Regions from separate parts of the Homo sapiens genome. Here region 1 is linked to region 2. The links come from fine-mapping of genetic effects on gene expression. A gene starts in region 2. The other region holds a variant in brackets. All regions are shown on one strand. Distances are from middle to middle.

What was found. PIP is the estimated chance that this variant, and not a neighbour inherited with it, causes the effect.
Region 1: its variant is the best candidate, but not a certain one, in a credible set for the expression of ZAP70 in whole blood (INTERVAL, PIP 0.77).

What each region holds. Positions count from the first base shown.
Region 1 is chr2:97,735,065-97,747,200 of GRCh38, forward strand. ZAP70 (zeta chain of T cell receptor associated protein kinase 70) reads left to right here. Exons shown (of 14, transcript NM_001079.4): 10 at 186-392; 11 at 2,409-2,601; 12 at 2,693-2,833; 13 at 2,931-3,043; 14 at 4,311-4,796. The coding sequence ends at 4,434. Among named protein-coding and RNA genes, the nearest start is that of ZAP70, 28 kb to the left of the region's middle. RefSeq lists an enhancer at 4,496-4,995 and a silencer at 10,577-10,686. The variant G/C (reference allele first, on the strand shown) is at 4,723.
Region 2 is chr2:97,709,014-97,721,149 of GRCh38, forward strand. It overlaps ZAP70 (zeta chain of T cell receptor associated protein kinase 70), which reads left to right and starts at 4,563. Exons shown (of 14, transcript NM_001079.4): 1 at 4,563-4,661; 2 at 4,903-4,981. RefSeq lists a silencer at 2,208-2,397 and enhancers at 4,371-5,344, 6,576-7,091, 7,092-7,606, 9,822-9,971.

The sequences.
Region 1 (12,136 bases), 26 kb after region 2:
TGTGAGCCGTCCTCAGCAGACGCTCCAGGCTGCAGGGACATTGAGCGCCTTGGTCCCAGCCTGGGTGGCGACTACAGTTGTCTACCACACAACTCAAGGGAGAAGAGAGATGGGTGGGTGGGGGTGTGGGGCCGAGCAGGGCCGGTGCCCCTCGCCCACGTGCCTCCCGTGGCCGGGTCGGGCAGGAAGCAGATCGACGTGGCCATCAAGGTGCTGAAGCAGGGCACGGAGAAGGCAGACACGGAAGAGATGATGCGCGAGGCGCAGATCATGCACCAGCTGGACAACCCCTACATCGTGCGGCTCATTGGCGTCTGCCAGGCCGAGGCCCTCATGCTGGTCATGGAGATGGCTGGGGGCGGGCCGCTGCACAAGTTCCTGGTCGGCAAGAGGTGAGCACCGGGTGGGCCCGGCCATCGGGTGGGTGGGGCCGGGGCCCATCCTGGGCATGGTGGACATGCACCCGCGTGCATGCGTGTGTGGGAAGCCGGGGCACTTCCACACCATCGTGGACACACTCTCAGCCTGCACACCCACACCCATACCCATGCCTGCAAAGCAGAGCTAACCCTCAGTCCACCATTGCACCAGTGCGGTAATAACAGTGTCTACCTCCAGGGCCTTTGCGAGGATCGAATGAGTCGGCACCTATAAAGGGCACTGCTAGGGCCGGGTGCGGTGGCTCATGCCTGTAATTCCAGCACTTTGGGAGGCCAAGGCGGGTGGATCATGAGGTCAAGAGATCCAGACCATCCTGGCCAACATGGTGAAACCCCGTCCTTACTAAAAATACAAAAGATTAGCTGGGCGTGGTGGTGGGCGCCTCCCAGCTACTCAGGAGGCTGAGGCAGGAGAATCGCTTGAACCCACGAGGCGGAGCTTGCAGTGAGCCGAGATTGTGCCACTGCACTCCAGCCTGGGGACAGAGCGAAACTCCATCTCAAAAAAATAAATAAATAAAAATAAATAAAGGGCACTGCTAGTAAGAGCTTTGTACACATCAGCTGCTCCCCAGACTCCCTGGGCCAAATTCATGGCCCCTGGGAAAGTGCCCATTGCCAGTTATCTGGAACCTGCCCTTTGTTTACGTGCTGCGTGGTTTTCTATTTTTAATTTTTTTTTTTTTAAAGAAACAAAAACGAAGATGTGACAGAGATCACTTGTGGCCTGTAAAGGCTAAAATCCTTACTATCCGGCCCTTTACTGAAAAGTTTTGCAGTTTCATTTGTGGTTCCTCATCCCCAAACTCTTACCCTCACAGACACAAGTTCTGCACTCCCCAAGGCACGTTTTTGCTGATCTGTGCCCTCTGGCTGGTGCACACACCTTCCCAGTGTGCCCCTGGCTCCCACATTCAGTCATTTGACAGGTGTTTATTGGACAGTTTCTCAGTGACAGGAACTGTTAGTAGCACTTGGGATTCATTAGCGAATAAACAAGGCAGAGATCCATGCTCTGTATTCTGGTTGGAGAAGAGAGACAGTAAGTAACAATCCTGATGAAATCTAGAGCATGTGGGAAGATAGTGTGGTGGGCACAAGCCTGCCGCAGCTCCAGGGGGTTGGGAGTGTTGGGGTGCGAGGTGCAGTGAGCAGGGAGGTTTGAACAAACTGAGGGAGGCCGCCATGCCCAGACGTGGGGAAGGGCATTCCAGGCAAAGGGCACCGCCTGTGCAGAGGCCCTGAGGTGGTCCCGTGCCTCGTGTGGTGCGGGCAGGGAGGGGATGAGCAGACCGTGCCAGGCCTTGCGGGCTGCCAGGAGGACTTGGAGTTTTACCCTGAGTTGGGTGGGAGCTAGGGGGTGCTGTGAGCAGAGGAGGGGGAGGACCTGACTCAGGGGCAGAGAGGACAAGACAGTGGGAGACAGGAGGGAGCGAGGGCCTGGGCGGAGCTGACTATTCCTGCCTGGGGGTCCAGGTGAGTGATGCTGCGGCTGCTTCCCGGTGGCAGAGGCAGAGATGAGGAGTGCGGTGGATTCTGGAGAGATTCTGACACCAGAACTGCCAGGGTTTGCTGATGGATTGGGTGTGAGAGAAAGAGGAGCTGCTGGAGAGGACAGTGGAGGAGCCATATGTGTGTGCACATGGGGATGGGGACAATCAGGCCACATTATCTTTGAGATGCCTGTGAGACCTCAGCACGTCGAGGGTGCAGGCATAGGTCTAGACTTGGGAGTCGTAGCGTGTGGGTGATCCCTAAAGCCTTGAGACTGGATGAAGGCAGGAGTTTTGCCTGTTTTGTTCACTGCTGTGTCCCCAGCCCCACGCCTGGCACACAGCAGGTGCTCAATAAGCGTTTTTGAACACATGGTCACCTGGCTCATGCCCAGCTGGGTCAGAGAAGCATGCTTTGCCCCTGGGAACTTGGCTAGTCTTCTCCCAGCTGACCCCGCCTTCCCCGCCACCCCAGGGAGGAGATCCCTGTGAGCAATGTGGCCGAGCTGCTGCACCAGGTGTCCATGGGGATGAAGTACCTGGAGGAGAAGAACTTTGTGCACCGTGACCTGGCGGCCCGCAACGTCCTGCTGGTTAACCGGCACTACGCCAAGATCAGCGACTTTGGCCTCTCCAAAGCACTGGGTGCCGACGACAGCTACTACACTGTAAGCCTCTGCCCCTGTGATGCCCGACTGGATGGGCTGGGTGGGTAGAGGGTCCCTGACCCCTGATCCAGCAGCATCTCCCCCTCCCCAGGCCCGCTCAGCAGGGAAGTGGCCGCTCAAGTGGTACGCACCCGAATGCATCAACTTCCGCAAGTTCTCCAGCCGCAGCGATGTCTGGAGCTATGGGGTCACCATGTGGGAGGCCTTGTCCTACGGCCAGAAGCCCTACAAGGCAGGCGCGGGCAGAGGCAGGTGGGCGGTGTGGTGGGGAGGGGGATGAGGAGGAGGACACTGGTCACTCACAGGTGTCTCTGCCCCGGCTTGAGCAGAAGATGAAAGGGCCGGAGGTCATGGCCTTCATCGAGCAGGGCAAGCGGATGGAGTGCCCACCAGAGTGTCCACCCGAACTGTACGCACTCATGAGTGACTGCTGGATCTACAAGTGAGTGCCAGTGGGGAGGGGACCCGGCTGGGCTGACCCCTGGAAAGTCCTGGTGCCCGATGAGTTGATGTCAATATAACTCTACCCAATGTCATCTCACCCAAAGCCCTTCACCCAGTTCATAGCCTTTGCAGCTGCCCCCTACCCCCACACCCAGCTCTCCAACACACCAGGGTTTGCTGTCCTGCTCCAGTGTGCCACACCCTGCCATCCCACCTGTGGGCCTGTGCCTCAGCATCTAAAACCTCAGCCATCACTCAACACATGGACCCTGCAACACGCAAACAGGTCCATACTCTGCTACTCAACCTATGACACTGACACTCAGGGCATGAGATGATTCTCCAGTACCCAACACTCCAGTCCCCACCAGCCAGCACACAGCACCCAACTACCAGACAGGTGAGCACTGAGGTACCAAATACTCATCTATTCCAGCCCCCACCTCTGCCTGGTTGAAGCCCAACCTTCAGACATCTCAACTCCTAACACCATCAGTATCCCAACTTCCCATCAGACAACAGGCAACACACCCCCAGACAAGCGGACGCCCTAGACTGCCCATGCAATGTGTGGACACTGTAACGCATGACCCCCCACCGGCCAGCACTTAGCATGCTGACACCCCAACACCCAAGCAGCCCAACAGATAGACACCCTCTCTGGCTGGCCCACCCTCCTGCGACATGTGTTAATTCCACCTCCATCAGGAAACACCCAGGGCACCACACCCCAGTACCCAAAGAGGCTAGCACCTAGCACCCCAACACAGTCCATGGATACCCCATGCACAGTACCGTTAATACTGCCGCTCCCCGCTGGCCAGACCCACTGCCATGCTCCAGGCTTCTGCTGATCACCAGCCTTGCACTCCCTCTCATCTAAGCCCCAGCACACTGATACCCTGGCCCCAGGTGCATGCACAGAGCATCAGCTTTCTATATCCCAGGTCCCCGTGGTCAATAGTTGCCACTCTGACACCAAGTCCACTCAGTCCCCTGAGTCCTCACTGGTCAACGCTCGGTAGAGGGGTCATCCCAGCACCCTGTGTGTGGGCAGCTCTGCCTCCTTAGGCTGTGTGGCATTGCCCAACGCTCTCACACCCCAGAGTCCTCTCCACCACCCAATGTCCCGCCACCCCAACAGCCCTGCTGACTTTCTGAGCCCCAAAAGTCTACCTCAGCCAAGCACAGTGCATGCCCACCCACTGGTGAAGCTGGGTCCTGGGGGCGTGGTCAGCAGCCTGGATGTACCCCACGCCCCACAGGTGGGAGGATCGCCCCGACTTCCTGACCGTGGAGCAGCGCATGCGAGCCTGTTACTACAGCCTGGCCAGCAAGGTGGAAGGGCCCCCAGGCAGCACACAGAAGGCTGAGGCTGCCTGTGCCTGAGCTCCCGCTGCCCAGGGGAGCCCTCCACGCCGGCTCTTCCCCACCCTCAGCCCCACCCCAGGTCCTGCAGTCTGGCTGAGCCCTGCTTGGTTGTCTCCACACACAGCTGGGCTGTGGTAGGGGGTGTCTCAGGCCACACCGGCCTTGCATTGCCTGCCTGGCCCCCTGTCCTCTCTGGCTGGGGAGCAGGGAGGTCCGGGAGGGTGCGGCTGTGCAGCCTGTCCTGGGCTGGTGGCTCCCGGAGGGCCCTGAGCTGAGGGCATTGCTTACACGGATGCCTTCCCCTGG[G/C]CCCTGACATTGGAGCCTGGGCATCCTCAGGTGGTCAGGCGTAGATCACCAGAATAAACCCAGCTTCCCTCTTGTCTGAGCGCCCTCATCTTTTCCGGGGTGAGGGTAGGTGTCAGGGGAGGGGTGGGTTATGAAAAGTGCATGGAGGTGACTGTTCTTGTGTGGACTGAGCCTGGAAGTGACCCCTGGGAAGATGGGGCTGGGTCCCACTCTCCACCCTAGGGACACCTTCATGTGAGTGAGCGGCTGGGGTGGAGTGGGGAACCTGAGGCCAGGCGGGTGTGGGCCCAAGGGCTGCGTGCCTGGCTGAGCCCAGCTCCCCTGTGTGGAGATGAGTGTGCCCCATGCCAGGTGCACGTTAGGATCACCTGGAGCTATTTTAACAAACGCTAACCCCCCCTCCCCCATCCAGCTGGGGTCTTCACCCCCCCAGGGGTGCCTTGCAAATCATGAGATACAATGCTTTTCATTGGTAGATGCACGTATTAGCTCCCGTATGAACCGTATTACTGAATTTGAATCTGAAAAATACCAAAATGCAAACATTGTTTTTAAATTAATTGTTTTAAAAGCTAATGAACGAATTAAGACAAATTGCATCAATTTAGTGGTTTCTTAAATCGTGGTTTGCAGGTAGTTCAGTTTTATTAAAATTCATTTGTGAGTCGCTGAACGACTTACATTATGTAAAATATATCAGACAGTAAATGAATTGTGGCTTTCATTGCCTTTTGGTCATCATTATGTTTCATGTCATCATTATTGATGAAAGTAATCTTATTTTATAAGAAGGAGGCATTAAAAAATGGGTGTCAAGTACATTGGGAACGCTAACAGACCCACCAGAGATGTCCGCTGAGGAACCAACGAAAGAGGGTGCAGTTCCGCAGAGCACTCTCCAGGTGGCGATGTTTCCAGAGGCCGAGGCCAGCTGGGGTCAATCCCGCCCTCACTGCCTGCTTCACCTCTGCACGTCTCCTTTTCCGCTAGCAGCACGACCTCAGGCCCTCACCTCCAGGTCCCCATTCCTGTCCCCTGTTGGGGTGATCAGACCCAACACCAGGTCGTGGGGGTGACAAAGTCCGGCAGAGTCAAAGGATTGAGAAAAAGACAGTTTGAGAGATAAAAGTGGGACACCAGGGGGTCATCGCCATCATGGAGGCTGCGAAGACCCTGAGCTCTGGGAGCCCACGGTATTTATTTGTAATCCAACAAAGAAACAGGTGGTGAGAATGTGGCTGTCAAAAGGACACGTTGCATTAAGCACATGATTTACAGCTGTGATGGTTTAGCTTTTCTACGGAACATGTTCTGCTACTTGAGATAATGGGAATACAATCGATCTAGGAGCCTAGGAAGGCTAGAAGCAAGGAGCCAGCAAGTCTAGACACGTTCCAGAGGCCATTATTTCAGTCATGCAAGCCCCATCTCAGTTTCCCTCCCAACACTCAGCTTTTTCCCAACAGTCCCCTGGAAGGTGCTTGCAGGATCTTTTCTCTTGGCGGCTCTGACCAAGCCCCTTCACCCTCCTCCAGGGTTTCCAGCGCCCACGCGGACTCCCCTCTGGGCCTCTGCATTCACCGCTGCCGCTGCCTGGAAAGCTCTCCCCGTCCCCACCGGTGATGTCCCCTAGGAAAGCTCCCCGTCCCCCGGGGTGATGTCCCCTAGGAAAGCTCCCCGTCCCCTCCCGGGTGATGTCCGCTAGGAAAGCTCCCCGTCCCCCCCAGGTGATGTCCCCGAGGAAAGCTCCCCGTTCCCTCCCGGGTGATGTCCGCTAGGAAAGCTCCCCGCCCAGGCTCCCTGGGTATGGAGGAGAGGGGCTGAGGGACGCAGTTTCTGATCACTGCTTGCACACCTCCTGTGATGGGCAGCTCATCCATTACCTCTCAACGCAGCCTGGGCTGGTAAGTGAGTTACAATTCTTAGAAAGGTTTTCCAGCTGCTGACACCAACCTTGACCCCCATTCCCTTTACCGTTCCAAGACCATACAGAGCACACCTCTTCTCCAAATATCTCACTCCTCCTCTATTGATCATGTGCCTATTCCAGACGTGTGTCATGAGGCACACAGGCTCAGGGTGATAACCACTGGCATGGTGGCAGCCCACTGGGCCCTGGAGGTCCAGAGAAGCTCCTGAGCCAGCTGAGAGGGGCCAATCTGGTGGGCTTCCTGTAGGAGGGAACGCCTTAGCTGAGTTCTGAAGGGTGAGTGACATTTGGTTGGGGACCGTAAAGAAAGTATCCCAGGGAGCAGGAATAGTGTGTAGTGGGAGAGAATGTCCTTCTGGAAACAAAGAGAGGTTTTGGCGGGGCTGGAAGGCTGAGTTTGGAAATGGGAAGAAAACGCAAGGCCTGGTGCGGTGATCAAGATGGGAGGTCAGTAACATCCTCTTTGTTTCATATTTCCTGACTCCTTGGCCAGGAAGCAACTAACATCTCCATCTACCAGGTCCACGGCTTCCTAGCATTGGGTTTTACCATTTTAAAAACATTTTTTAATTTTAGATGGGAAAAATATCTTATTGTGTAAATTAAGACAAATTAGCATTTCTCTTGTAAGTGGCGAAGTTGAGCAGTGTTTTCAGATGTGCGCCAGCTTGACAGATGCCACCTCTTGCTGTGAACGTCTCATGGCCTCATGCCCAGCACAGAGCTCGCACCTTCTCAGGCCCCATCCTCTGCTCTGAGCAAAAGGCCAAGGGCGTAGGCTGCCCTGTGGCCACATGGGTGAGGATATGGTGAATCAGTTTCCTGTTCTGCTTCCATTCACCTTTTGTCCCTTCAGGGTTTCAAATTTCTCTCTTCTCTGTTGGAGGCTGGGGTCCCATGTGCCTGTAGCTTTGTCCTTGTCTGAGGTATCTCTGAGCTCAAATTAGAGGGCTGTGAAGCCCCAGGAAGGTATTTGTGGGAGGCAATTCTGATGTGCTGGGTGCCTCGAACACACAACTTCCTGTTTAATTCTCAAAACATCTGCCTGGGGTGGGGACTCTTGAACCCATTTTACAGTTGAGGAAACCAAGGCTCTGAGGACTTGGTTTACAGACCCAACATGCCCACTATCCCAAGGCCAATATGTAAGAGGCAACTCTATTGGCAGCTTTTCTGGGCTTCATTTAACAAACTCCTCTGTAGACATTAAGGTTCTGTTTAATTCATGTTCTAGAGGACAGAGGTTGTTAGCTCTCCATCTTGAGGCAAAACTCTTTGTCCCACCCTGCCCAATCAAGGCATGGAAGCCCTGTTTCTCATCTAGGAAGGGGCTGTGGTGTTCAGCTCAGCACCAACCTTATACTTCAGGGAGAGAAATGGGAAAGAAAAAAAGGGAGAAGAAAGCACATACATTCATCCTCCTCGGAACCAAACTCCTGAGTTAGGCCTTGGTTCTGGCTCCGTGGCTGCCACTAAAATCCCATGTGGCCTTGTTAAATCCCTCCCACCTCTGGCTCTCCACTTCCGCTTCTGTGGAGTTTTTATTCTAGCAATGAAACTTTTCACATATGAGCTCCTGGTTCTTTCTTATATCTGCCTGCTTTTGTCTCATAGTCTCCTGTTCTTTCTTTTCTTTGAGATAAAGTTTTGCTCTTGTTGCCCAGGCTGGAGTGCAATGGCGCGATCTTGGCTCACTGCAATCTCCACGTTCCGGGTTCAAGCGATTCTCCTGCCTCAGCCTCCTGAGTAGCTGGGACTACAGGCACCCGCCACCATGCCCAGCTAATTTTTGTATTTTTAGTAGAGATAGGGTTTCACCATATTGGTCAGGCTGGTCTTGAACTCCTGATCTCAGGTGATCCACCCGCCTCGGCCTCCCAAAGTGTTGAGATTACAGGCATGAGCCACTGCACCCGGCCTCCTGTTCTTGTTTATGGCTGTTATTCCCTTCTTTATCTCTTTGAGTTTTTAATATATTTATTGCAAAATTCTTTTAAGGTTGCACTATTATTCTCTATTTCCTCAGACGTAAATTCTTCCAGTTGGGGAGTTTGTGGAAATTTCATGAAGTGGTTGTGAATCCATTGTCTCTTCAGAATATTTCTTGCATGTGTATCTTGTAAGGGCTGTATATGAGAGCCTGTGCTCTTGGCTTCATACATTAGGGGGCCCTGCATTGGTACTAGCCTCCTAATGGGTAGGTGGTGGGGGGCTTCAACCCTTGTCTCTGGGCATCTCTGCAGTGGTCTCTTGTATACCTGGTATTTTCCTGTCATTGCTAAGTGTTTGAAGAATGGTTTCTATGTGTACTTGGTCTGCCATCTTGAATGAAAGTCCAATTTCACCATCTGTAAACATTTCACAGATGAGGCACCGGAAGTTCAGGGAGGTGGCCTGACTTGCCCCAGTCCACACAGCTAGGAGGGAGAATTTGAACCCAGCGAAACCCTATCCACTCCCCGCTCCTCGGCAGGCCCTGGCCCGGTGCTCCCCTCAGCTCTGACTCATTGCTAGCTCTGCATTCCCTGGACACCTTCTTCCTCAGAGAGCTGGGAGAATGGCCTCTACCCTGTAGACACGCTAAATAAACTCAAAATTTTGTTCTGGTGGACGAAGTGAAAAAAACCAAAACTGGCAGATTAGCTCGGTATAATATGACAAGGCCCTGGACTCTGCAGTCTGGCTGTGAGACCTCAGGGAGGTTACTTAACCTTGGGGAGCTTCAGTCTTCTCATTTGTCACATGGTGATAATAACTGTGTTTACCTTTCTGAGTAGTGATGTGAAGTGAAACAATGCATTAGTTTAGCACTTAGTAGCTGCTTATTAAATATTACTTCCTTCCATGGAGGAAAGCAAACTGGGGATGGGGCCAGGGGAATGTGATAGCTGATCCATCAAATTCCTGAAAGGTTTCATGGGCCAGAGGGAGGAGAGCTTCTCCATGGTCTGAAAAAGAGAACAGAGAATAACAGGGAAGGATCCAGGGAAGGTGACACAGCTGCAAAGTCTGTTCATTGGGGTAAAGAATAATCCCTTCAACAAATGGTACCAGGACAACTTGATTTCCACAAACAAAACAAACAAAAAGTCAGACCTCTATCTCACACATATAAAAAAACTAACTAAAATGGATCAATGACCTAAATATTAAATATAAGAGCCCAAACTGTAAAACTCTTAAGAAAACAAAGAGGTAAATATTTTTGGATTTCGCAGTGGATTCTCAGGTATAACACTCCAAGCACAAGCAATAAAAGAAAAATAGATAAACTGAACTTGATCAATATAAAAATCTTTTACTTTTTGTTTTTAATTTTTATTTGTTTTATTGTTTTTTTGAGACGGAGTCTCGCTCTGTCCCCCAGGCTGGACTGCAGTGGTGCAATCTCGGCTCACTACAATCTCTGCCTCCCGGGCTCAAGCAATCTTCCAGCCTCAGCCTCCTGAGTAGCTGGGATTGCAGGTGTCCATCACCATGACCAGCTAATTTTTGTCTTCTTAGTAGAGATGGGGTTTCACCATGTTGGCCAGGCTGGTCTCGAACTCCTGACCTCAGGTGATCCACCTGCCTTGGCCTCCCAAAGTGCTGGGATTACAGGCATGAGCCACTGTGCCTGGCCAAAAAACCTTTTAATTTTTAAATTAAAGGACATCATCAAAGGGTAGCCCAGAGAATGAGAAAAATGTTAGCAAATCATTTATCTGATAAGGATTTAGTGTTTAGAATGCATAAAGAATTCCTACAATCCAACAACAAAAAAATATCCAACTCAATTAACTGGGCAAAAGACTCGAACAGACATTTCTCCACAGATGCTATACAAATGGTTAACAAACACATGAAATGTGAACTTCATTAATCATAAGAGAAATGAAAATAAAAACCACAGTGACAAGCCACACCTCACACCTCCTAGGATGGCCGTGTGCACACACCGTAACTACGGCTGCTGAGGGTGTGGCGAAATTGGAACCCTCACACACTGTGGGTGGGGATGTGAGATGGTGCAGCCTCTGTGGAAAGCAGTTTGATGTTTCCCTACAAGGCTAAACATGGGCTGACCATCGACCCGGCAGTTCACTTTTAAGTATACACCCCAGTGAATTGAAAACAAGGTCTCAGATAATAGTAAACCAATGTTCACTGCAGCATCATTCACGATAGCCAAAAGGTTGAAACAACCCAAATGTCCATCAAATGATGAATGGATAAACAAAATGAGGTGTATACATTCCATGGAACATTATCCAGCTGATGGAACATTATCCAGCTGAAACAAGAGGGAAACTCTCTTGCCTGCTACAGCATGGAGGAAACTTGAAAATATGCTAGTGAAAGAAGCCAGACACAAAAGGACAAACATCGTATGGTTCCACTTACAGGAAATATCTAGAACAGGCAAATTCATAGAGACGGGAAGCAGATAGAAGTTACCAGGAGCTGGGGGGAGTAGGCAATGAGGAATCATGGATTCACGTTTACAGAGTTTCTGTTGGGAATGATGGAAAAGTTCGGAAATAGATAGGGGTGATGGTTGCACAACACTGTGAATGTAATTGACACTGAATTGTGCACCTAGAAAGTTAAAATGACAAATATTATTAAATATGTTTTACTACAATTTTAAAAATAGCTTAAAAAAACCCACCACCGCCACAAAATATACAGTTACTCTCTGTAAGTCCAGTGAGGATTAAAATACAATGGAAGGTCTCTTGCTCAAGCACAACCAACGTTGTCTATGCCACAATTTATAGACCTGTGTTTTTAAGTTTTGGCTTCAGCAAGGAGGTGAGCAGAACTTTCAGAGGAGGTTAAGGGCTTGGCAGATTTTGCTGGTGACACACCCGGACAGGAGTGGCCTTGATCTTGGTTTTCCCAGCCTCCAGAGCTGGGAGCAATACATTTCTGTTGTTGATGAATTACCCAGTCTAAGGCATTTTGTTGACAGCAGCACACACAGACTAAGACACAAGAGCACCAGCAACAAAAGAAAACAATGGAGAAGGTGGACTTCATGACATTGAAACTCTTTGTACAAGAAAAGTGTATCAAGAAATTGAAAAGAGAACTCACAGAATGGGCCTAGTACTTGCAAATCATATATTGGGGAAGAATCTAACATCCAACTTATATAAAGACCTTTGTATAAATCAACAATAAAAAGACAGTCTAAGTAAAAAATGGACAAAGGATTTGAACAAACATTTCTTTAAGACATACCATTGACTCATTAATGAGCACATGAAAAGATTCTCAACATTATTAATCATTAGGGAAATGCAAATGAGATAGCACTTCCAAAAGAAAAAAAAAGGTAAAGGAAAAATGGGCAAAAACAACTGTGGGAGTGGATGTGGAGAAGTCAGATCACTCGTGCATTGCTGGTGGGGATGTTACAAAGTGCAGCTGCTTTGTAAAACAGTTTGGCAGTTCTTTAAAAATTTAAACATAGATTAACCATCTGACCCAGGAATTCCA
Region 2 (12,136 bases):
TGAAGCGCATATGTGGGATTTTTTCACCCATCCATGCAATATTTATTGAGTACTATTGTGCTAGGTACCACTCCAGTTGCTGGGGTCGCAGCTGGGAACAAGATAGTTCCTACCTCACAGATGACACAGTCCTGCTTAAGACCTTTGCTGGGAATGCTCTTCCCCCAATATCTCCGTATCTCCGTGGCTCTCTCCTACATCTCCTTCAAGTCTTTTTTTTTTTTTTTTTTTTTTTTTTTTTTTTTTTGTGAGACGGAGTCTCACTCTGTCACCCAGGCTGGAGTGCAGTGGCGCAATTTCAGCTCACTGCAGGCTCCGTCTCCTGGGTTCACGCCATTCTCCTGCCTCAGCCTCCCGAGTAGCTGGGACTACAGGCGCCCGCCACCACGCCCGGCTAATTTTTTGTATTTTTAGTAGAGACGGAGTTTCACCGTTAGCCAGGATGGTCTCGATCTCCTGACCTTGTGATCTGCCTGCCTCAGCCTCCCAAAGTGCTGGGATTACAGGCGTGAGCCACCTTCAAGTCTTGATTCACAGGTTATCCCCTCCGAGGCATGCCCTGACTGGCTCAAAATTACATGCTCAAGACCTCGCCTACCCTTTCTGATTTATTTTACTCCTTAGCACCTGTAACCATGTGACATACTCTATGAAATATTTATCTATTTTGTTCATTCTCTGTCTCTCCCACTAGAATGTCAGCTCCATGAGGGAAGAGATTTTCATGTGCTGTTCACTGCGGATCCATAGAACAGAGTACCCGGAAAAGAGTCTGGCATAGAACGGGTGTTCAGTATTGAATAAATAAGTAGCCAGGGGTCTCAGGAGGTGGCAGTGCCATGGCAGTTTGAAGGCTTCCGAAGGAGCCATCCACTTGAGAAGCCCCCAGGGGAGAGCACAGCATGTGGCTGCTGTGGTCAAGCAATTCTTTTCTGACTTAAACCAGCTGGATTAATTTTTTTTATTTCAGGGCAGGGCGGTGGTCACTTTCAGCCTTCAGGGACGCCTGAGTTGTGCTTGGCAGCCTGCAATACTGGAGAGCTGCCCCTGGAGGGCGCAAGGGAATCCCGTTGCTGCACTCGGACGCGCAGTCACTAGACATGAGAGATGACGGTGGTGGTAGCAGTAATGGAGCATTTGCCTTTAGGCCTCTTTTAACTTTCACAACAGCCTACAAGACAGGTACCATTATCCCCGTTTCCTAAGGGAGGAAACCAAGGCGCAGAGAGGCTAAGTAACGTGCTCACGGTCCCTCAGGGTTAAGTGGCAGAACCAGAAAAGAACCAGAAGGAAAGGAGATACAAGTCACCATTTTTGGCCTGGCGCGGTGGCTCACGCCTGTAATCCCAGCACTTTGGGAGGCCGAGACGGGTGGATCACGAGGTCAGGAGATCGAGACCATCCTGGCTAACGGTGAAACTCCGTCTCTACTAAAAATACAAAAAATTAGCCGGGCGCGGTGGCGGGCGCCTGTGGTCCCAGCTGCTTGGGAGGCTGAGGGAGGAGAACGGCGTGAACCCGGGAGGCGGAGCTTGCAGTGAGCCGAGATAGCGCCACTGCAGTCCGGCCTGTGTGAAAGAGCGAGACTCCGTCTCAAAAAAAAAAAAAAAAAAAGTCACCATTTTTCTGTACACCCAGAGGGAATCCAGGAGGGGCCCTGGATGGACCTGTTTCCTTTGGGGCTCATTGCACTGGGGTGTATCTCCTCTCGGGCCTGCTGGAGCCTCCACCCTATCTCCCTGCTGCACGTCTCCCAGCAGTGGCTTGTGTTCTCTTAACTGTGCAGCCAGATTGGACCTGCTCAGCTCCAGGTGAAATGGACAGAAAGCCCATCCCTGCCCGGTCTGAGGATTGGGAAGCCTTCCTGGAGGAAAACACGCTTAATTGGAGACCTGAAAGAGGACTAGGAAATAGGCAGGTGAAGAGGTGTGGGCAAAGACCTGAGGATATGGGGGTGACTGATGAATTTCTTCGAGGCTCTTGGCATGAGTAGAGTGAATGTTTACCCCAACCCGATGAGGCAAAGGCACCGCAACTTTCCTAGCCCACATTTCCATCCGTTTGCCCTTTACTGTAAACATTCAAAAGATGCATCCACCTCCTTCCACTCTGGCAGAACAGAGGACCTTATCTGCATGCCAATCTCGGATTATCTGTAGCCCAATCTCAGAGCTGTCTGAGCACTGGGCTTTGTAGTTTCCAGACCAGCCTCTGGGACAGGAAGTGGGGGGCTCAAGGGTTGTAGGGCCAGTGCCTTGCAGAGGCTGGGAATCCCCTTCTCAGGACCTGAAGACCCTGGAAACTGGAAGCCCCCCACCCACACAGAGGCACCCTGTCCCATAGCTGGCTCAGCTTCCAGCTCCCTGGGGCGCTGGCCTCCTTCGGGGAGATATTTTACAACCAAAGTTTTCTTCTTTTATGTCCAGCAGCACGTGGGTGGGGTCAGGCTGCCTGGGCTGCAATCCCACCTGGCCACTTGGCATCTCTTAACCTCTCTGGGCTTTACTTACCTTATCTGGAAAATAGGTTGAATGGCTTATTAATTGTGATGTGCGTACAGCAATGTCTGGCACATAATCAGTGCGACTCTCATTATTGTAGTATGAATGTGATTTGATGCTGTAATTTCTCCTCTCTTCAGGGTGCCGGTGTCTTTTTCTCTCAATACTCCAAGAAATGAGCGTCCAGCATGGATGTGAAGGGATGCTTGCTGCACCTGGAGTTTCAAGATGCCGCTGGGGAAAAGGGAGGCTGCTAGCAAACACCATTTTGGAGGGGGCTGTATGAAGGAGAAAAGTAGCCTAGAGCCGGAACTCAGATTTTCTAAAGGGGATTCAGGCGGCCAGAGGATAGTAGAGGGCCAGAAAGGAGGTCCCCAAGGAGGCTTCGGGGTAGGGTGTGAGGGGATCCTCAGGCAGACTGGGGAGCTGAGCCTGTTGTAACCGAGCGAGTTACAGAGAAACGCCGCACTTTGAGACGAATTCAGGGGTCCTTTATTAGCTGGCGACTGAGAGACAGCTAGTGCTCAAAATTCTCTCAGCCCCAAAGAAGGGGCTTGATTTTCTTTTATACTTTGGTTTAGAAAGGACAGGTGGGGGTCTAAAACAATCTTACAGAAGTAAAGCAGGCAAAAAGTTAAAAGGATAAATGGTTACGGGAAAGCAAACAGTTCCAGGTGCAGGGGCTTAAAATCTATCACAAGGTGATAGACACGGGGCTTTGGGCGTTATCAACCGGACACAAACGCCGGGGCTCTGGGTGCTATTAACCGGGCGAATTCCTGGGAACTGCGGATATAGCTTGCCACAGTATCTTATCAGTTAATTGCATTCTTGGATGTGCTGGGAGTCAGCTTGCACAAATTAAGTCCTTGAGGAAGCGGGGTGGGTAAGGGGCTGCAAATGAAAGAGCCAAGATGGAGTCTGTCTGGCTCTCTTAGCTAAGGGAGAGTCAATTCAGGTTAAAACAAGGTAGGGTATCACAAGCCCACTTAACAAGGGCAGCAGGACCCCAAGAAGAAAAGCTTTAGGAGTCTCCACAGTGGGCCCAGGGCAGTTCCACACAGGTCTCTGAGGCCCCACAGACAGGAGAGCTGTGACGACTCCCTTAGTGCCCAAGAAAGCAAGGAGGTGGTGGGCAAGGGGCTCCCAGAGGCCTTGGGGCACTAGAGGGGAGATGGAGCCGAGGGAGTGGCTCTGCAGGCCCCTCTCTGAGAGAGTGCATGAGGTGTGGCCCCAGGCCCAAGGGTAGGGGGTGCACAGGGTGAGGGAAGGGAGGAGAGGAAGAGGAGGAGGAGGTGGTGGCCACAGCGGGATGGCACTCAGCCAGGTTCAGCTTCGTGGGAAAGGTCCCAGGTGGGCCGGGCTAGCACTGGGGATGCCCTGGCTCTGTGTCTCGGTTGGGTGGCTGACTCCTCCTGGAACGCATCCCTGACATCCTCCAGGCTGGCTTGGGGATACTCTGGGGACACACAGTGCCCAGGCTTCCGGCCTCCCAGCCCTGGCTCCCTGTGGACTCAGCTGCCCCCAACAAGCCTGCGAGCCACTGGAGAGCAAGGGCAGGCTGTCCTTGCCATCCAGATGCCTGGCACAGAAGGGGTTCTCACCTTCGGGGTATGGGCTGACTCAGTGGGTTTCTCCTCCCTCCAGCTCTAACCTGCCTGTGGAATAAACAAATCACTCCTCTGGGTTGTCTAGCTGGTGCAGGCCCCAGGGCGACGCCCCTTTGAGGGGAAAATGGGGGCATTCCAGTTTCCATGAGCCCTGGGACTCCCCTCCTTCCCACCACTGCTGCCTACCCTCCGGTTCCAGGTATGCAGGCTTCCTCCCTTCTGACGGTTCCTGCTGCTGGAGTCGTCCTTCCTGAAACCCTGCCTTTGCTTAGCCTCATTCCCATCTCTCAGTCCCATCCTGCAGCTGGGCAGGCAGTGCTGGGCCCCGGAAATGCCCTCTGCCTCCCTGGAGCACGTGGCCTGTGATTTTCCTTGAGCACAGCACTTTGTGACTTTGATGTAAACATCAAACACAGCCCCCTTTCCTGTCTTCGCATCCAGGAAATAGGTTAGTTTCAGACAAGCCTGCTTGCCGGAGCTCAGCAGACACCAGGCCTTCCGGGCAGGCCTGGCCCACCGTGGGCCTCAGAGCTGCTGCTGGGGCATTCAGGTAAGCGGCTGTCCTCGGGCCTTCTGCCTGTGTCCTGCCACCAGGGCCACCCCAGGGGGCTCTGGGAGACCTGGCAGAGGATGAACCCCCCCCATCCATGAGTGAGAAACCCTGGCGGGGTGTGACATCCTCCCCCGGGGTGTGTGCGGAGAGTGTGAGCGGCAGGGCCTCCCTCTCAGGCTGGGGGCTTGGGCTGCAGGGAAATCCAAACCGGCTTTGTAAGCCCCGATTCCTCACCCAGAACCGGCTCTCCATTGGCATTGGGACCAGAGACCCCGCAAGTGGCCTGTTTGCCTGGACATCCACCTGTACGTCCCCAGGTAAGTGGTGCCTGGGTGGAGTGGCACCTGGCCACCGTCTCCATGGTGGGCTGTGTCTGGAGGAGGAAGACAGAATATTAACTGGGAGTCAGGAGGTTGCTGGGAGGACCAGGAGAGCTGGAGGACTGGGCTGGGTGGTGACTGGCTGGAGATGGAGGCAGACGGGGCTTGTGGCCACGCTGAGGGAAGCAGCTCCCCCTCCAGAGGCTTGGCCGAGCGGGGCTGTTCAGGGGACACGGTGAGGCCTGCTCAGTCCCTGGGCTCCTGCTGGGCCCTGTTTGGCTGCATCCTTGGCTCTCGGAGGCAGAGAAACCTCCAGAGAAAGCGCATGTGCACTCTGTGAAGATGAGGGGGCTGCTCACCAGGGCCGTGAGCTCCATCAGCAGAATGCTGTGATTCCTGTGAGGAGTCCAGGGCAGGCTTGAGCCACTTGTAGGCGAGCTCAGGTTAGAGGAAGACCTGGAGAGAGAAAGAGCAAAACACCGAGTTCTCCTCAACTGCTGTGTGTTCTCGGCAAGTTGCTTGGCCTCTCTGACCTCAGTTTGTGCATCTGTTAAATGCACATGCAGATATGGGCACCTGGCAGGCGCCTGGTTCCTGACTGTTGGCGAGAGGCTGGGAAATGTGTCCCAGGTAGGAAGCATCCCCGACAGGAAGGAACAGGAGTTCATGAGGTGAGCAGCTCGAGATGATTCATTACTCTCGTCTTGGTTGGAACAGTAGGCAGACAGGAGGTGTTTAATAATGCCTTGCTGAGAGATCAGGGTCAGGGACTCCTAAGGTGCCACCTGTGAAGCTGCCTCCTGCTGAATCCAGAGCTTCCTTTTCCTCTTCACACCTGCCCTCCATCCTCAGCCCCACTGCCCTGGCAGTGTTGCGGGGGTGGTGTTGATGTGCACACTCTGGAGCCTGGGGGCCTGGCTTCACATTCTGGCTCTGCCACTCACCAGCTGTGTGACTGGACCAGTCACCGCATCTCTCTGTGCTTCCCTCCCAGGGCTCTCGGGAGGATAAAGAGAGTGACTGTATCCACACTGCCCGGCACATACAGGTGCTGCAGAAAGGTCTCACTAAAACCCTCATTATCCTCACTAGCTCTGGGTGGCCTCGGGCTCTGGACTCCACAGTTCCTGTATGCTCTCCGGGGCTGCAGCACCCAGACCACCCCGTGCTGACCACTCCCTGCCCCACCCCAAGGTACAGGGTTAAGGCAGCCATTCTCATCAGAGCCAATTTTACCTCCTCCCGTCTCCCTGGGACAGTTGATAGTGCCTGGAGACAGTTTGGGTTGTGACCCAGCGGGTGTTACTGGCATCCAGCATGTCCAGGACAGGAATCCTGTGAACAGCCTACAAGGCCCAGGACAGTCCCACCCTGTTCCATTGTCTCTATCAGCCCCTATCCTCCTGACTCACACCGCCTTTTCCCATCTCCCTTTTACAGTCACAGAGCCTGAGGCCCAGAGAGGGACCGCTGCTTGCTGAGGTCACACAGGCAGTGGAGGCCGGAGTTGGGGGCCTCACTGGAGGGGCGGTGGAAGGGCATTGTTCAATCAACAGACACTTGGAGAGTGTGCTGGGTTGGGGAATCTGACCCTGACCCCGCACCAGCCCAGCTCTCCAGGGTCTCCTAATAGACATTTGCTGGAGTGGTTAGTGCTGGCTGCTGCATTGGACAGACCTGAGTTCAAATCCTGGTGGCCCCTTGCAGGCTGCATGTTCTGAGAGTGACATTGACCTCTCCGAGCCTCAGTTTCTTTAGCTGAGGAGTGGGATAACAGTTCCCACCAAATGTAGTTGTGGTGAGAATTAGAATAAATGGCTAATGCTCGCAAAGGGTAGTGCAGTCCCCAGCACAGAGGCTGTTGTGATTGTCCTTACACACTTGACAAATATTTGTGGGGAGGAAGCAGGAGCTTCCATAGAAAACAAGACAGAGCCGTGGGCCCTGCCTCGGGGAGCTCAGCCTGGTGAGGGACTGAGGAGCAGAGACAGAGGCCATCAGGGCTGTGATGTGGGAGGATGGGGACCCTGGAAGCCTAGGGGAGGTGCCTGACCCAGGCTGGGGAGGGGGCAGGGCTCATGGAATGCTTCTGGGAGGATGGGACAACGGAGGAGGCCTGAAGCCGGAGGCCCAGTAGAAGGATGCAGCGCAGTTCTGGGCTGAGGGAATAGCCTGTGGCCAGGATCCTCAGGATGGGCCCCTCCTCTCCCGCCATCCTCCACCCAAGGAAGCCCCTGTGGCCCCTCACCCCTTCCCAGGTGTCAGGTTCCACCGGTGCTCAGAGGCATCCCCACCCATCCCAGTGGACTGCAGACCTTTGTAGGTACCTGGTATATTGAGCACCTCCTCTGTGCCATGCTGGTATAGGTAGGAGAACAAGACAAAGGCTCCACTCCCGTGGTGCTTACATTCTGGCAGGGACAAAGGTACTATGTCACCAATAGATACAATATCATCTTTTAGGTGGTGAAGAACAACAAAGCTGGGTCAGGGCTAGAGAGAGAAGGAGAGGCTATTTTGGAGAGGGAGGTCAGGGAAGGCCTCCTGGAGGAGGTGACTTAGGCAGAGACCTGAATAAAGTGGAAGGTGTTGGAGGAAGAGTCTCCAGGCAGAGGGAACAGACAGTACAAAGGCCCTGAGGCTGCACCATGCCTGGTTTGTCCGAGGGACCTGAACGAATAACATGAGGAGGCCCGTGTGGCTGGAGGGGAGTGAGTGGCGGGGGGTGGTGATGGGCATCATGAAGGGCCTTGGGGGCCACCCTGAGGACTTGCATTTTCACCCCGAGTGAGGTGGGAGCCTAGAGGGCTTCAAGCAGAGAAGAGGATGTGATGGCATGACGGGGGCCAGCAAGTCTCACCCCAGGGAGTCCCTGCAGCCCCAGTGCTGGACACCTTCACTGGCCCTGCTTTCCGGAGGAGGTCTGGCGAGCTTCACTCGCTGCTGAGGCTGCACTGTGACCATGTGGTGGGTCCACGATTCCATGATTTGAATCCAATCCCTGCAGTCAGGAAAGACATATGAAGGAGGAGCCTGCAGCCATGGCTAACTGCGGCTGTGTGGCTCATGGCGTCACCAAGCTGGCGTGTGCTGACGACCAGTGCCTATGCTGCCTCTGTTGGTGGGCACAGGCGGCCCGAGCACAGCTGGGGGATTAAGGAGCAGGGAACATGGCTTCAGAGGGACTTAGGGTCTCAGGTGAGGACTAGGGGTTCAGAGAGAGAGAGCCAGGAGCTGGAGTGGGAACAGGGTGGTGGGGGGGCAGTAGGAGGAGGTGGGGCGGTGAGGGGCTGGGGCCCTGCTCCTGCAGAGCCTTGGATGGGGACATGTCAAGCCTCTGGCTGGGGGGACATGCGGAGCCTCTGGCTGGGGAGACATGCGGAGCCTCTGGCTGGGGGGACATGCGGAGCCTCTGAGCCTCTGGCTGGGGTGACATGTGGAGCCTCTGGCTGGGGGGACACGAGGAGCCTCTGAGCCTCTGGCTGGGGGGACACGTGGAGCCTCTGGCTGGGGGGACATGTGGAGCTTGTGCTGCTCCTGCCCGCTCCCACCAGGTCCAGTGGCTTTGGTGTGATACCTCTGCTCTGACGATGGGCATGTAATGGGGGCTTCTGATGCCCAGGGAATGTTCTGTGAAACAGTAGACCTTCAAGGCTTTGCTGAATAGGTGTGGGAATTAAGTGACGCTGAAAGAGGTCCTTCCATGTGGTCTTCTCGGAGCCTTTAATGTGCTTTTCACAGCATTTGAAACTGTATTTGACCCCTTGACTCTTTTTTCCTTTGAAGCATGTTTGGGGAATCTGATCTCTCTGGAACAGCTGTAATCTAGCACTGCCTTTACCCAGGGAGGCTGGGTGAATGGTGGGATTCCAGGCAGGTCCTTCTGACCAGGCTCCAAGGCTTCCTCCCATCATCCTCCCAGGGCCTGGGCTGTGAGTGTGGGGCAGGTGCCCCGTGGCTGCTCTGCTGTGATCTCTGTGCTGTGATCCAGGGGCTGTAAGTTCTGGGAAGGCCAAACTAGGATCTCTGAACTGTGAGCTCAAGAGGAAGCTGACTGGGGTCAGCCTAGGGAGAACCATAGGCCAGGCTTGGGGAATGAACAGGCTCACTGGGGACTGAGGGACGCGGCTCCTAACCCAAGTCCTGTCCGTCGGGATGGCCCAGGCAGGTCGAGGGCTGGGGTGGGTCTCATGGTGGGTGTGTCTTCTGGGAGGGCCACGAGTCTGCAGGGACACAGCTGAGAACAGAAACATTTGATCCCCTGCCTGGGGTCTGGGGTCACCCCGGGGAGCTCTAGATCGGTGCAGCTCACTGACAGCAGACACTCCGGCTAGCCGCTGCGTGGCAAATGCTCCCACCTCTTGCCCCCGGACTTTTCATCTCTGCCACCTCTGCCCACCTTCTCTGGCCTCCCCAGCATCTCTGGCCATGGGGTCCCTGGGAACTTGGGCCCCATGTTTTACTAGTGAGGACAGTCCAGAAAGGCCCCAGGGGTGGAAGAGGAGGCGCCCACCACCCGACCTGTGTGTGTGGGGTGGTGCTTGTGATTACCGTTGTCCTTGTGGGCAGTGGGACAGGGAAGCTGGGACGCAGCCGAGATGCACAGGAAGAGAGCCTGCCTCTGGGACTCCTTAGCCTCGGGTCATGGATGGCAGCCCTGGGCTGGGCACTGAGCCTCCCTCATCTCCTCTTCTGCCCTAACCCACTTCTAGCTACCCAGGCTGCACCTGCGGCCACGTGGGGAGGAGCTTCTCAAACTGTGTTGGCGACAGTTTCCTGCCACAGCTTCCTGCCCCAGAGACCAGCTTTGCTACTCTGCACCCATGGTCCTTGGACAAGCCCTCAGTTTTCTGCCTCATCCTGCATCCTCATGCTTTATGGGAGTGGCTCCATGAGTCTTCAAGGATGGGCTGGCTGGGTTGGAGAAGATGGAGGGGAGAGGGAAGGGTGCACTAGGTGGAGGGTGCTGTGTGGATGAAAGTATGAACATCCATTTGAAGGAAGGCAAGTAGCACAGCTCAGCTGGGGCAGAGGGCTGGGGAGATCCAATGCAGTAGCCATTAGGGTCTTGAGCAAGGGAGGCCTTGGGGAAGAATTGCCAAGGAGCAACTTGCAGACTCTGGGGCTCAGCTCTGTGGAAATAGACTGTGAGGTTCAGCCAGCCACAGGCAGCATGAGCATGCCATCTGGATCTTAGGTTGGTTGTATTAATGGAAACAGTTGGTGGAGATCAAAGGAGATGATGCCAGCACCAACCGACCTCAGTCGGGCGAGAGATCTGGGCTCTGGGAGAGGTGGGTGTGGCAGCATGTACAGCTACTGACAGGATGACCCAAGTAAGGGGACGGGGGTGGGGGAAGGAGAGTGAGCAGGATGGTCAGAGGGCAGAGGCAAGCCAGGGAGTTTGTGAAGGACCAGAGAGGTCTGTGGGGCTCAAGCAGGAGGGAGGAGTCATAGGTGTCGGCCATTCAGGGGGCCCAGGATTGAGGAGGTCACAGAGTGCTTGTCTGGTGCCTACAGACTGCCAGGGGTGCTATCAGTGCTGGAGAACAGCCTGGGGGGGGGGCGCAGACCAGGTCTGGCTGAGAGGCTGGGAGTCAAGGACATAGGGACAGGAGTGTAGACAGCCCTTAATCACTTTTCCTATTTTCATTAGCATTTTTAGTGTCCATTGTGTCTGTATCTTCCAGTTCCTTTCCCCCTTAATTAAAAATTTGGGGTATAATTTACATGCAATAAAATTTTTATATCATTTTAGTGAAAAATTCTGAGATTTGACAAATGCATACAGCCCAGAGACTACCACCACATCAATCAAGATACAGACTATTCCCCCAAATTCCGTCCTGCCCTCTGTCGTCACTCCTTCTCCGGCCCCCAGCACCCAGCAACCTCTGGTGCGTTTTCCGTCCCTATAGTTGTGTGTGGAATCACACAATTCGTAGCCCTTGGAACCTGGTTTCTTTCATCCAGCCTGAGGCCTTTGCGATGCGTTTGCGGAACTGCGTGTCTCCGTATGCTGTTCCACTTACCGCGGAGTAGAATTCCACTGTAGGCATGTCCCACAGTGTATCTTATTCATCTGTTGGGAAACATGTAAGTTATTCCTAATTTTTGGCAACTGTGGCTAGTACGGCTATAAATGTTCCTGTGTAGGTTTTTGTGTGAATGTAAATTTCCATTTCTTTAGAGTGAATACCTAGGAGCCTTCATGGGTTTTTTTGTTTTGTTTTGTTTTGTTTTGTTTTGAGATGGAGTTTTGCTCTGTTGCCCAGGCTGGAGTGAAGTGGTGCGATCTCGGCTCACTGCAACTTCCACCTCCTGGGTTCAAGCGATTCTCCTGCCTCAGCCTCCTGAGGAGCTGGGACTACAGGCGCCCACCACCACGCCCGACTAATTTTTTTGTATTTTTAATAGAGACGGGGTTTCACCATGTTCGCCAGGCTAGTCTCAAACTCCTGACTTTAGGTGATCCGCCTGCCTCGGCCTCCCAAAGTGTGGGCCACCGGGCCCAGCCATTAATTTTTGTATCTTAATGGAGACGGGGTTTCACCATGTTGGCCAGGCTGGTCTCAGACTGCTGGCCCCATGTGATCCACCCGCCTTGATCTCCCAAAGTGCTGGGATTACAAGCGTGAGCCACTTCGCCCAGCCGCTTCATGACTTTTTAAAAACACTCTTGTGGAATGGTGACCTTTTTCTCCAGGTGGAGCCACAAATGCAGTCCCTTATGAATCTCTGGAACACCCACCTGTCTGTAACTGTTGGGACATCCAGGACCCCCCTCAAGCTTGGCCCTCCCAACCTCACTGTCACAATCAATCGGGTTACAGTGCAGATCCTGGCCCCTCCTCTAGCTACTCTGACCCAGACTTCACCTGATTCCCATTCCAGTACCTTCCTTTCAGCTCCAGAGCCCATCTCTGGACACCCAGGGCAGAGGGAGCTTTCACAAAAGCATTCATTTTACCCCTTGGTTGCATTTGCATAACTAAGAAGGGCACTCAAAGTCAATTCTCCAATGCAAACTTATGCCTGAGTAGCCTTGCTGGGCCTATGTTAGTAGAGAAACAACTCAGAACCGCTATGGAGAGGTATTTTTTCCCAACATTCTATGAAAACTTACAAATATGCAGAAAATAGAAAGAATTA